Linked DNA regions of Homo sapiens: region 1 is linked to region 2. Evidence: fine-mapped expression QTL. A gene starts in region 2. The other region holds a variant in brackets. All regions are shown on one strand. Distances are from middle to middle.

What was found.
Region 1: its variant is fine-mapped to the expression of DOK7 in whole blood (TOPMed, PIP above 0.99). The same link has a PIP of 0.9 or more in blood mononuclear cells.

Annotation. Positions count from the first base shown.
Region 1 is chr4:3,485,450-3,490,640 of GRCh38, reverse strand. It overlaps DOK7 (docking protein 7), which reads right to left. Exons shown (of 7, transcript NM_173660.5): 5 at 4,983-5,102; 6 at 845-964. Among named protein-coding and RNA genes, the nearest start is that of DOK7, 25 kb to the right of the region's middle. RefSeq lists a silencer at 820-929 and enhancers at 4,086-5,052, 5,054-5,191. The variant G/A (reference allele first, on the strand shown) is at 2,493.
Region 2 is chr4:3,460,774-3,465,990 of GRCh38, reverse strand. It overlaps DOK7 (docking protein 7), which reads right to left and starts at 2,685. Exons shown (of 7, transcript NM_173660.5): 1 at 2,562-2,685; 2 at 2,440-2,485. The coding sequence starts at 2,615. RefSeq lists enhancers at 1-142, 3,060-3,907.

The DNA of each region.
Region 1 (5,191 bases), 25 kb before region 2:
GAGCAGGCGGAGAGGGAAGGAATGAACGAGCAGGGAGAGAAGAAATGAAGGAATGAGCAGAGAGAGAAGGAAAAAACGAATGAGCAGGGGGAGAAGGAAGGAACGAATGAGCGGGGGGGTGAAGGAAAGAATGAGCAGGGGGAAAAGGAAGGAATGAATGAGCAGAGGGAGAAGAAAGGAATGAATGAGCAGGAGAGAAATGAAGGAATGAATGAGCGGGGCGGTGGGGGGGGTGAAAGAAGGACTGAATGAGCAGGGGGTGGGGGGAAGGAAGGAATGAATGAGTGTGGGGAAAAGGAAGGAATGAATGGAGGTAAGGCAAGAATGAGCCGGGGGGGCGGAGGAAGAAATGAATGAGCAAGGTGGGGAAGGAAGGAATGAATGAGCAGGGAGAAAAGGAAGGAATGAATGAGGGGGTGAAGACAGGAATGAATGAGGGGGGAAGGAATGAGTGGGGGGGGCGGAGGAAGAAATGAATGAGCAGGGTGGGGAAGGAAGGAATGAATGAGCAGGGAGAAAAGGAATGAATGGGGGTGAAGAAAGGAATGAATGAGGGGGTGAAGAAAGGAATGGGGGGAGGAAGGAATTAATGAGTAGGAGGAAGAAGGAAGGAATGAATGAGCAGGAGGAGAAGGAAGGAATGAGCAGGGTGGTGGGGAAGGAAGGATGAATGAGTAGCGGGCGGGGCGGGGAGTTGGGGGAAGAATGAATGAGCAGGAGACAGAAGGAATGAATGAATGAGCAGAGGGAGCCTGCAGCCCCCACACATGCATGGATGCCTCCTGAGCTCTCCTGCTGGAGGCTTAGCCGAGGTCCCACAGCCCAGGTCAGCCCCCGGCCCTACCTCCACTGCCCGGCCTGCCCGCATGTGAGAGGAGGCTCAGCCGCTTCTCCAGCTGTAGGGTTTCCAGGGCTTCCTGGGCCACACGCTCCTCCACAGTCGAGGGTCCCGGGGGACTTGGGTCTGTGGCAGAGAGAAGACTCGGTGGAGGAGGTGGCCACCACCGCCCACCCTCGCCCGCAGGCACCAGGCCCAGCCTGACTCAGTGGTTATCCCCCTCTGTGGAGTGGCAGTCCCCTGGGAGTCCCCGCTCCTCCCGATGCCTCATCCCAGAGGCTGGCCCTCAAACGCAGACACCCACACCACCCCTATCCAGGCCACCATGCGCCCAGCTGGGTCCCTGTGCCCGTGGATGGCCCTGCCACCTGCCCACTCACCAGGACCCCACGCCGGCCAGACCCCTCCTTCCTCATCTTCCTCACCACCGAGTTTTTCAATTTTCTGTTCCAAAAAATGACCAGCCCCTCCCCCATCCCCAGGGCCGGCCTCGCTGCAAGAGGGGCTGCCTGCCCCTCATTCACGGTGCCCATTTCTCACAGGCTCCCCTCCACCTGGGGAAATGCCCGCCCACCTTGCAGTGTCCCCACCGTTCCCTGGGGTCTCGGATGGAGACTCATACTGTGCCCAAGGCTCAGAGCATGGTGGTCTGCGGACCCTCGGCCCCACCTAGCCCCTCCCCTCAGGGCTGCATCCAGGGAGCACCAGCCTCGCCTTCTCTATTCATCGTCCATGTGTCCTCTGCGACTGAGTGGCAGGAAACCTCCCCTTCCTGCCCAGGCAGGGTGGGACCTCTCACTGGCCCCTCAGCACCGCTGCTGCGAGCCTCAGCATCACTGCCCTGGTCCCCAAGCCCCCGCCCATGCTGGGATGTCCCAGGCACTAAGTGATGTGAACACTGGGCCAAGTGGCTACCTTGCTCCAAACAGCAGGGCTCAAGACCCTGCCCCTTCCACATCCACAGCACCCACGGCCACAGCCATCCCAAAGAGTTTCCCTGGCAGGGAAGCCACAGCCACACCCGCAAGAGCAAACCGACCCCGTCCTGCTCCAAGTGGCCTCCTCTGGGCCTCCAGAACACACCTCCTGACACCCACCTTGGGGGCACCTGCAGGACTGAGCCGAAACAGGTCCAAGGACCTGCTCTCCCCAAAGTCCAGGAGCAGTGGCAGCATGAAAAGTTTACACCAAATTCTGCAGCGCACAGAGGACCAGAAGGTACAGTCCCCAGCCTGGGACACCTAGATCAGAGCCTCAGCGGACAGAACCCAGCCTGGCGGAGGCTGGAGCCAGACGTCCCGACCCCATGGTCAGCGCTCCGGAGAAACAAACAGAGAAAGCAATGGTGTCCCTGTCCAGGTTCACATCTAGGCTGAAGAGGCCCTGTCCCTGATAGGACACTGTCCTCTGCTGATGCCTTCAGCCCACACAGGTGCCCAGCTGGGGCCCTTGCTCACTACAGGAGACCCCATCAGGACCTCAGAACAGGGCCCTCCCCACGGGCAGGTGAGAGCTCACAGCACCGGGCCCAGGAACACAAGAAGGGCCTGGAGGAGCCTCCCCCACCTCTGGGTATGGCCACCCCAAGGCACTGCCCCGGTCAGCCTGGGGCCCTGCCAGCCCAAGACCCTGTGGCCCTGTCTGTAGCATTGCC[G/A]GGGACAGGGATGGGGGTGGCACAAGCCTCTCTCCTGTCCCCTCCCTGCCTGTGCCTGGGAGGGTGGAAGGCGATGGCAGCCAAGGCTGTGCCAGCTCAGGCATCAGTCCCTCCCGACACGGCCTGCTGGTGGCCATGGAGCCCACAGGCCACACGGCTTAGCAGCTCCTGGCACTTTCACAGACACATTCAGCCACGTGGGCAGGACAGCAGGCACCAGTCCTGGCTCCTTGGTGCACTGAGGGTCCAGGCTGAAGACAAGCACAGTGACAGGACAGCACAACTGCCCCTCAGCCCTGGGACATTCCGACCAGGGCCACCCTCAAAGCCAATGCCCCACAGGTGGGACGGAGAGTGGCCCCTCGGTGACACCAGGGTCAGGATGCAGGACACAACCTCCCACCATTTCCCGTCCAGTAACTGGTGGGCCAGCAAGACACGGATCGACTCCCAGCTCCACCACACGCCCCCTGAGCCTCTCACCCTCGTCTGCAAAATGGGGTGCAGCAACGGTGCACCCCCGTGGAGGCCAGGCCAAGAAGGTAACATGCACGCCATACTCGGAGCATGGTGGACCCCAGACCTCTGAGCCCTTCCCTCCTGCTCCTGGTGGGTCTGGCTGCCTCTGGGACTCGGTGTCCACATGCGGAAGACCAAGGGGCTGGACTTCCTGCATCTCTTGGCCCCTCCAGTGGGTCACAGCGGGCTCAGCACAGGAGGACGGCAGAAAGCCCAGAGCTTGAGGATGCCGCCCGCAGGGCTCTATTGTGGGAGTCCTGTGATCACGGGGCTCCAGTGTGCTGCCAGCACAGGCAGACGAACCCATCAGCCCAGACCCTCCAGTAAGTCCAGCCTGCGGGGGCTGGGCCCACGGCTTCTCTGGTGGGGTGCTGCCCAGCATAGTGTCCCAGCTCAACCCACCTCCGGGTGGCCTGAGGCCCCCACACACCTGCAGAGGCACAGCTTGGGGGCACAGCTGCAGGCCGAGGCCCTGACAACAGAGCTTTCTGAGAGCTCCCAGCTGACTCTGACAAAGATGTCCTGTGGAGTGGGGTCTGGGACTTCTGGTCAGCCCAACCCCCTCCAGCTGTCAGCAATGGCCCCGCCTGGGGCTGGCCCACGTGCTGCCTGCGGTGGAGCCTGTCCCATCTAGTGGCTGTCCCAGGCAAACCCTCCCTGGCATCCTCTGCCCAGTACTGCTTCCCTGCTTCCCTCTGCTCCCCGGGAACTGCCTGAGGGGAGCAGGAGAGAGCAGGGAGCCCTGCTCAGCCTCCTGCTGCCCCTGCCCGGCCCTGTCCCCGCCCTGCACTCTGCACACCCTCGCCTTGCACAGCCAAACACACCGACCACATCATCCACGCTGACCACACCATCCACACCTGCCTGCAGCCGCTAGGCAGGAAGACACCTGCAGGGGTGCATCCACTAGGCAGGAAGACACCTGCAGGGGTGCATCCACTAGGCAGGAAGACACCTACAGGGGTGCAGCTGCACCATCCAGCATGGCAGGGCAGCGGGGAGGGCGCTGGCCATAGGTGCCACCTCCCCACTCCCAGGGCTGCCCCCAACGGGACTTTGCTGGTGTGGGCAGGGGGCATTGGGGGCTGTGGCCAGGAGAAGGGAGGCCCAGGTCCCACCCCACATGCTGCTCGCCTCTGCCCTCCCAGTCACCCTTCCCCGCCACACCACGGCGGGGGTGCCAGTGCCAGGAGGCGCCACATGTGAGCTTGCTGCTCACCCGCCACATGGCCTAGGCCTTGGCCTCACTTGGACGTTGGGTCAAGCGCTGCCCTCGTGGAGCAAGAGGAGCATTTGAGAGAGCCCATGGAGGCACCTGGCCCAGCACCCGCCCCGACCTGGGGAGCCCCACCGTGCCCAGGCACCAGAGCCCCTCTGGGGTCCAGCAACATCCCTGGCCAAGGACTCCTGCAGAGAGTGCCGCAGCCACAGCCAAGGAAGTGTGGGTGAGACAAGACGAGACCCCCTCAGCCCAACGTGTCCTGAGACCCCACAGCCAGGGGACCTCCCGAGGTGGCCTTGGGCCTAAACACCGGGCTCAGGCAGAGCCAGTCCCGACCCCAGCTGCAGAGTCAGACCAGCTGCCCCCGGGCCACCGAGCTCGGGCAAGGCCTTCCCTGCTCCTGGGCGTGGAAGATGGTGGTGGTGGGTCAGAGGGTCTCTTACTGCACAGTGGCAGCTGTGGCTGACTGTCCCAGCCAGAAAGCTCTAGGGCCAAGCGTTCCAACAGCTCGGACCCCCGAGGGAGAGCACCTGCAGGTACGAGCCCAGCCCCCGCTGCTCTGAATCCCTCAGCAGGGCTTGCAGAAGCCCAGGCTGCAATCCTGGCCTGGAAAGGTTCTGGTTCCTTAGCTGGGGGTGGGGAGGCTGGCCATCTAACTGGGGCTGACAAATCACTGTGGCCCCCCGCCCCGGGACGTCGCACAGCCTGCCGAGCGCACCCTCCCCGGCCGGCCAGGCTCCCACACGCACCTGGTAGAACCGGCCGCAGCCCAAAGGGGCCCTTGGTGGGGGAGATGCCTCGGACGATGCAGTCGAACAGGAAGCTGATCTGCTCCCCCTCGGCCGAGGACAGGAAGAAGACGCCAGCCCCTGCAGAGGAAGGACAGAGACAGGTCAGTCTGGCCCGAGGGCGGGCTGGGGACCCTGAAGAGGAGGAACACAGGAAACCGCAGCAAACT
Region 2 (5,217 bases):
GGGGCCACACTCTCCACAGGATGTCAAGAACACTTTCCTCACCACCCCCAGCCCCCGCACCTGGGAGGAAGAAGAGAGGGGCTGGGCCAGGCGCCGCTGGCATGCAGGGCCACCAGCAGTGAGTCCTGGGCCACAACTGGACACAGACCACCCTCCTCCCCCGGGGCCCTGCCCAGAGAGGGGACGCAGACACGCATTCCGCAGTGAGGACGCGGTGGAGACATTGAGGAACGTGGTCCCACTGCAGGGCACCCTGCAGTCCCACACCGAGGCAGACGGCCCGACGTCCACTGGCCATGCCAGGCGCTGTGGCTGAGCAGCCCTTTGATAAAAGGGTTTCCCTTTCATTCGCTAAACCTTGTCATAACAGAAAGACGTGCTCACGATTGAGAAAAACGCAAGGAGGAGAAAGGTGCCAGTGGAAAAGGTGCACATCGGGGCCCTTCCCAGAAGGAAATCACCACTGGTAACAAAAAGAACCCTGCCTGTCTTACAAGGAAGCAGACGGGACCCTTCCTCTCTCCCTCACACCAGGAGCGCAGGGTCTGTGCTGTCTGCTCCTCCAGGGCTGGGGCCTGCTCCCTCCACGCCGGGCCCATCCACAAGGGAGGTGGTCTCCAGCGCTGAGCGGGAAGGCAGCTGGGTGAAGGCAAAGGGGGCAGCATCTAGGGAGGCTTATGAGGGGCCAGGGGAAGAGGCATCAGGGCCTCTGAGCGGAGAGGAGGTGCCAGGCTGGCCTGGTCAGGGTGGGGAGGTGGGCGTGAGAACTCCGCTCTGTCCCATCCCCTCATCTGACCGACCTCTGGGCAACCCCACAGGGTGTCAGTTTCAACCCTGGGCTGCTGGAGTGACCAACACAGAAAGCAGGTGTCCAAAGCAATGGGTCCCAGGCCAGTGAGTCAGTGGGTGCTAGGGACACCTGGCCTCAAGGCTTGGAATGAACATCCACCCAGAGGGGGCATGGCACCTTCTACTACCCCACATCACCTCCCACGCCAGCCCCAGAAGGCTGCAGATCTCAACTGCGCAGGATACGGGATAACCCAGCAGACGCTCGGGAGCCACCATGTTCACCTACAGACTCACAGATTGTCCCACCTGGGGGACCCATTGCAAACTCCTGTCACTCCACTCAGGCACTCACCGGCCGGGGGAGCACACCCTCTTGAGGCTGGCAGGCCCTGCCTCCTGGGACTGTCTGATGCAGAAAGAAAATCCCTCCAACAGGGACAAAGACTTCTCCCCCGACACTCCTCTTTGGGGGCTGCTGTCCCGGGTGCCTTCCTGGGATGCGGCCTCTCTGGAGGGTCTGCACCGGCTCCAGCCCAGCACCATCCACCAAGCATCACCTGCCCCACCACGGCCCCGACCCAGCCACAGCTGACTAAAGCCTGTCATCCGCCCCAGCCTGGCAGGGCCTCTCACTCTGCCCAGACCCCATCCCTTCCTATACCAGGTCCCCTGCAGCCCCGGAGGACAAAGACGCCCTCCCAGGCTCTGTCGGTGCCCCCACAGCTCCAGGCAGGAGGTCTGGGCACGGAGGGCTGAGTGGAGAAGTGACCAGCGTGCAGTCCAGGCCCTGCAAGGGGAGGCGGAGGCAGGCAGGAAGTGCTTTCCTCCAGGACCACCTGAGGCCCTGCAGAGGGGACGCAGGAGGGATCCCTGCCCCACACCCTCCCTGGGAGTCACAGACACCCGTCCTGGAGGGTGCTCTGGCAGCCCCCTGGCGTACAGCCCCCCATGCACACAGGCCGAGCATCCCACCCAGACCCGGGCCTGGCCGGCTCTGCCGCACCTGTCCTCTGGAGCAGCTGCAGGCCCGGCTCAGCCCTCCCTACAGGCCCAGCGCTGCAGGCGGCCTGGGCTGCCAGACCTGGGGGCTCCATGCTGACCCTCCCCAAGCTGGGGTGCTGGCTCAGGGCGGGGACTGGGGGGGGACCCCTGCCTCCTCCCAGAGGACTGTTCCCCCAGCAATGTGGCAGTCACTCTGCCCTGCCCTACCGCAGCCCAGCCTCTCGTCTGCCTGGGAGGGGTCCAGGGTCAGCGCTAACCCACGCAGCACCCCTGGAGGCTGGGTTCGGGGGCCCTGCTCTGAGCGTTTCCACAAGCACAGCTCAACCCTCAGGTATGTGGGGCTTTGCTTCTGGGGGGCCCCTTGCTGCTCTGCTGGGGGGCTCAGGGCCTGCGTCCCCTCCGCCTACAGGGCCACCAGGCAGCCCCTCGGGCCTCAGTCTGCCCTGCTGGAAAGAGGGTTCTTCCGTCCAGGGCCCCCACCTGCGCTCCCAGGGGCGCCGGGGGGTCCGGGTCCGCACGGGGCTCTCGGGTTTCCCGGCGGGGTGACAGCGGCGGCGATTTTGGGCAAGCTGGCATTACTGCCCCGGGCCTCGGTAACCCGTGTCGCTACCCCCGCGCCCCCCGTCCCCCGCCCGCCCCGCTCACCTGCCACGGGCGACGGCTTCCGCAGCACCAGCCACCTACTCTTCCACTGCGGGGACAGGGGGGAGCGTGAGCCGCCGCCCGCGCCCGCGCCCCCCCCCCCCGCGCCCCCGACGCGCCCCGACCTTCTTGCCGTCCCGCAGCTTGACCTGGCCCTCCACCAGCGCCGCCTCGGTCATCTTCTGTCATGGTTCCGCGCCGCCGCGCTCGCCCCGGCGCCCCAGCCCAGGGTCACTTTCAAAATAGCTCGCAGGGCCCTGGGCTGGGCCAGGAGGGCGGGCCCGCGGGCAGGGCGGCGACACCGGCGACTCCAGGGCCGGCGCGGGCGGGGCTCCTTCTCCTGCGGGCGGCTCCCCCACCCCCACGGGCCCCTCTGGCCCCACCGTCCCGCGGCGGCCACTGGAGCCGCCCGCCCTCTGGAGCAAGCGCACCATCTGGGCTCAGACGCTCAGACCAGCGCCTGGCGGGGCGGGGGTCGGGCGGGGACTTCTTTTTCAAAAAGCAGAGACAACCACCTAGCAGACATCGGCCCCGCTCTGGGCACTGCTCCCAACTTTAAAGTTGGTCTTCAAACAATCCGGCTTCCCAGACTGGCATCTGCCCCTACCCCAGGGGTCACTAGACACCCGGACAACAGACTGGCCACAGGCAGCCCAGGCCTAGGATGCTCTCACATCCCCAGGCTTCCCCCACACTGAGGTGACCCCTCCCCAGGCAGGCAGTAGGGGTCGGGGAGCCCCTGGCAGCCTCTGTCTCTTCCTCCATTTCTGTTCCCATTAAAAGCCTGCAGGGACCCCAGTGCAGGTGGGCGGGTCCAGGACCCACAGTGCCGCCTCAGGGCCCCAGGTCTCCACCTCTTCTGCCCCCATCCCAGGCAAGAGCAGGCCCTGGTTAGGCCAGCCGGCTCCGATGGGCAGAGGAGCTGCCTGCTTTGTAAAGGACCTGCCAGCAGCCCTCCCAGCTGGGTGGACTTTGCGCTTCTGGACTCCCCCTCCTTGACCCTGTGGCTCCAGTCCAGCTGTCCCCAAGCTCTGGCCTGGGCATTAGATGTCACATCCAGGTTCTTCTGCAGAGAGGCCATGTGCTTTGGGGGACCTGGCAGGTCCGTGCCTTGGGTGTCAGCCCCATCCGAGAGACGGCCTCCACCACCCTGGGGTTGGGGACACCCAGCAGATACGGGAACAGCAGTGGGGAGGGGCGATGGCACCCTAGAAGATAAGCACCTGGACAAACAGCAAAGCTCCGTCCACATGCCCTACCCTAGACCCCATCCTCACGGGGCTGACGGTTCTCGGGGGAGAAGAAGGAAGGGGTAGACAGTGTCCCGTTAGGGAGGAGACGTCTTCATTTCATCCCATCCAGACCCTAGGCTGGGCTCTGTCTGCCTCGCACTGAGGAGCAAATGGAATCAGGGCAGCGTGAGGCCTCACAGCCAGGACTGAGCCACATCGGCTGACCTCAGAGCAGGGCTCAGAGGCATCGGGAGCCCTGGGCGCCCCTCCCCACTGCCCCTGTGATCCAAGAGACAGGTCTCCGGTGGGCCACAAGGGTTGGCTTTGGTGCTTCGGTGATGTCTTGTCAGGGCCTCATGCAAGGCGGGGGACACCAGGCCCAGGAAGCAGAATTTTGCATCCCCCACCCACCCCCGCAGTCACCTGTGCAGCCACCAGCCGCCTTCCGCAGAACAGTTGCTGGGTCACAGAGCCCCATTCATGCTCCCCACACATCCCAGGCCCCCAAGGGGCTGGCCCAGGACAGCCGGTGCGGAGGCGGGGGCCGTTGGGGCTGTAGCCACAGACACATCCGCTGCCCTGGGCGCCTGGCACTTGCTTATCCCTACAGGGAGAGGCAGGGCCCTGCTGCATTCCTGAGTGCTGGCCCGGGCCCAGGCTCCTGCCATGCCTGGCAGCTGCACCTGCTCCCACACAGCCTGGAACACACAGGATGCCGGAGGGTAGACAACTCCCTTCCCTGCTCCATGCGGCTCCAGGGCTGCTGAAAGGTGGAGGAAGCTTCCTGCAGGAGGAGGAGGTGGCCTGGCTGCCACTCCCAGACTGGCCGAGAGCGCTGTGACCCTGGGCAAGCTCCTGCCCCGCTCCGTGCCTCAGAAGTTATAGCCAGAAGTTTCCCCAGAAGTTATAGCCAGGGTTGCTGGTTGCAAATGGAGAAATAGGCTGGCCACTGAGTAGGAAGGGGTTGATTGGAAGCAAATCAGGTCTCCAAGAACCAAGGGGAAGGCTGGAGAGCTGGTAGGCAGTGAAAACAGAGCCACATCCTGAAAGAGGAGGACACCACAGCTCAGCCCCACAGCACAGCTGGGCTCCACACGAGGGGCAGGGTCACCACCTTCAAAGGAGCCCACAGTCTCAGGTCACAGCAGCACCCCTGTCTGACCACAGAGCCCTGCTGCGGCTGCCATGCTGCTGCTGGACACTGTGGCCAGGGACACTGCCATCTCTGCCAGACCCCATGGTCGTGGCACATTGCCACCCGCCAGTGGCTCTGTGGCCAAGGGACCTGTCCCTGACTAGCCACACCACCTTCAGCCACCATGTGATCTTACTGGTCTCAGCTTCCTCTTCTACCTTGATACTGTGATGAGCCCCAATGAGATGGCGTCCATGAGCATCTTTCAAAATGATCCAGGGTTTTCCAAGGTGATTCCAAGGGGATGATGGGGACCAGGGGTGGGCTGCTTTGTCTTGCATCTCCAAGTGGCCTGGTGTGTGGGAGAGAAACACGTCAGCTGAGTGTGGCAAGCACTGTACCCTGTGGTCACAC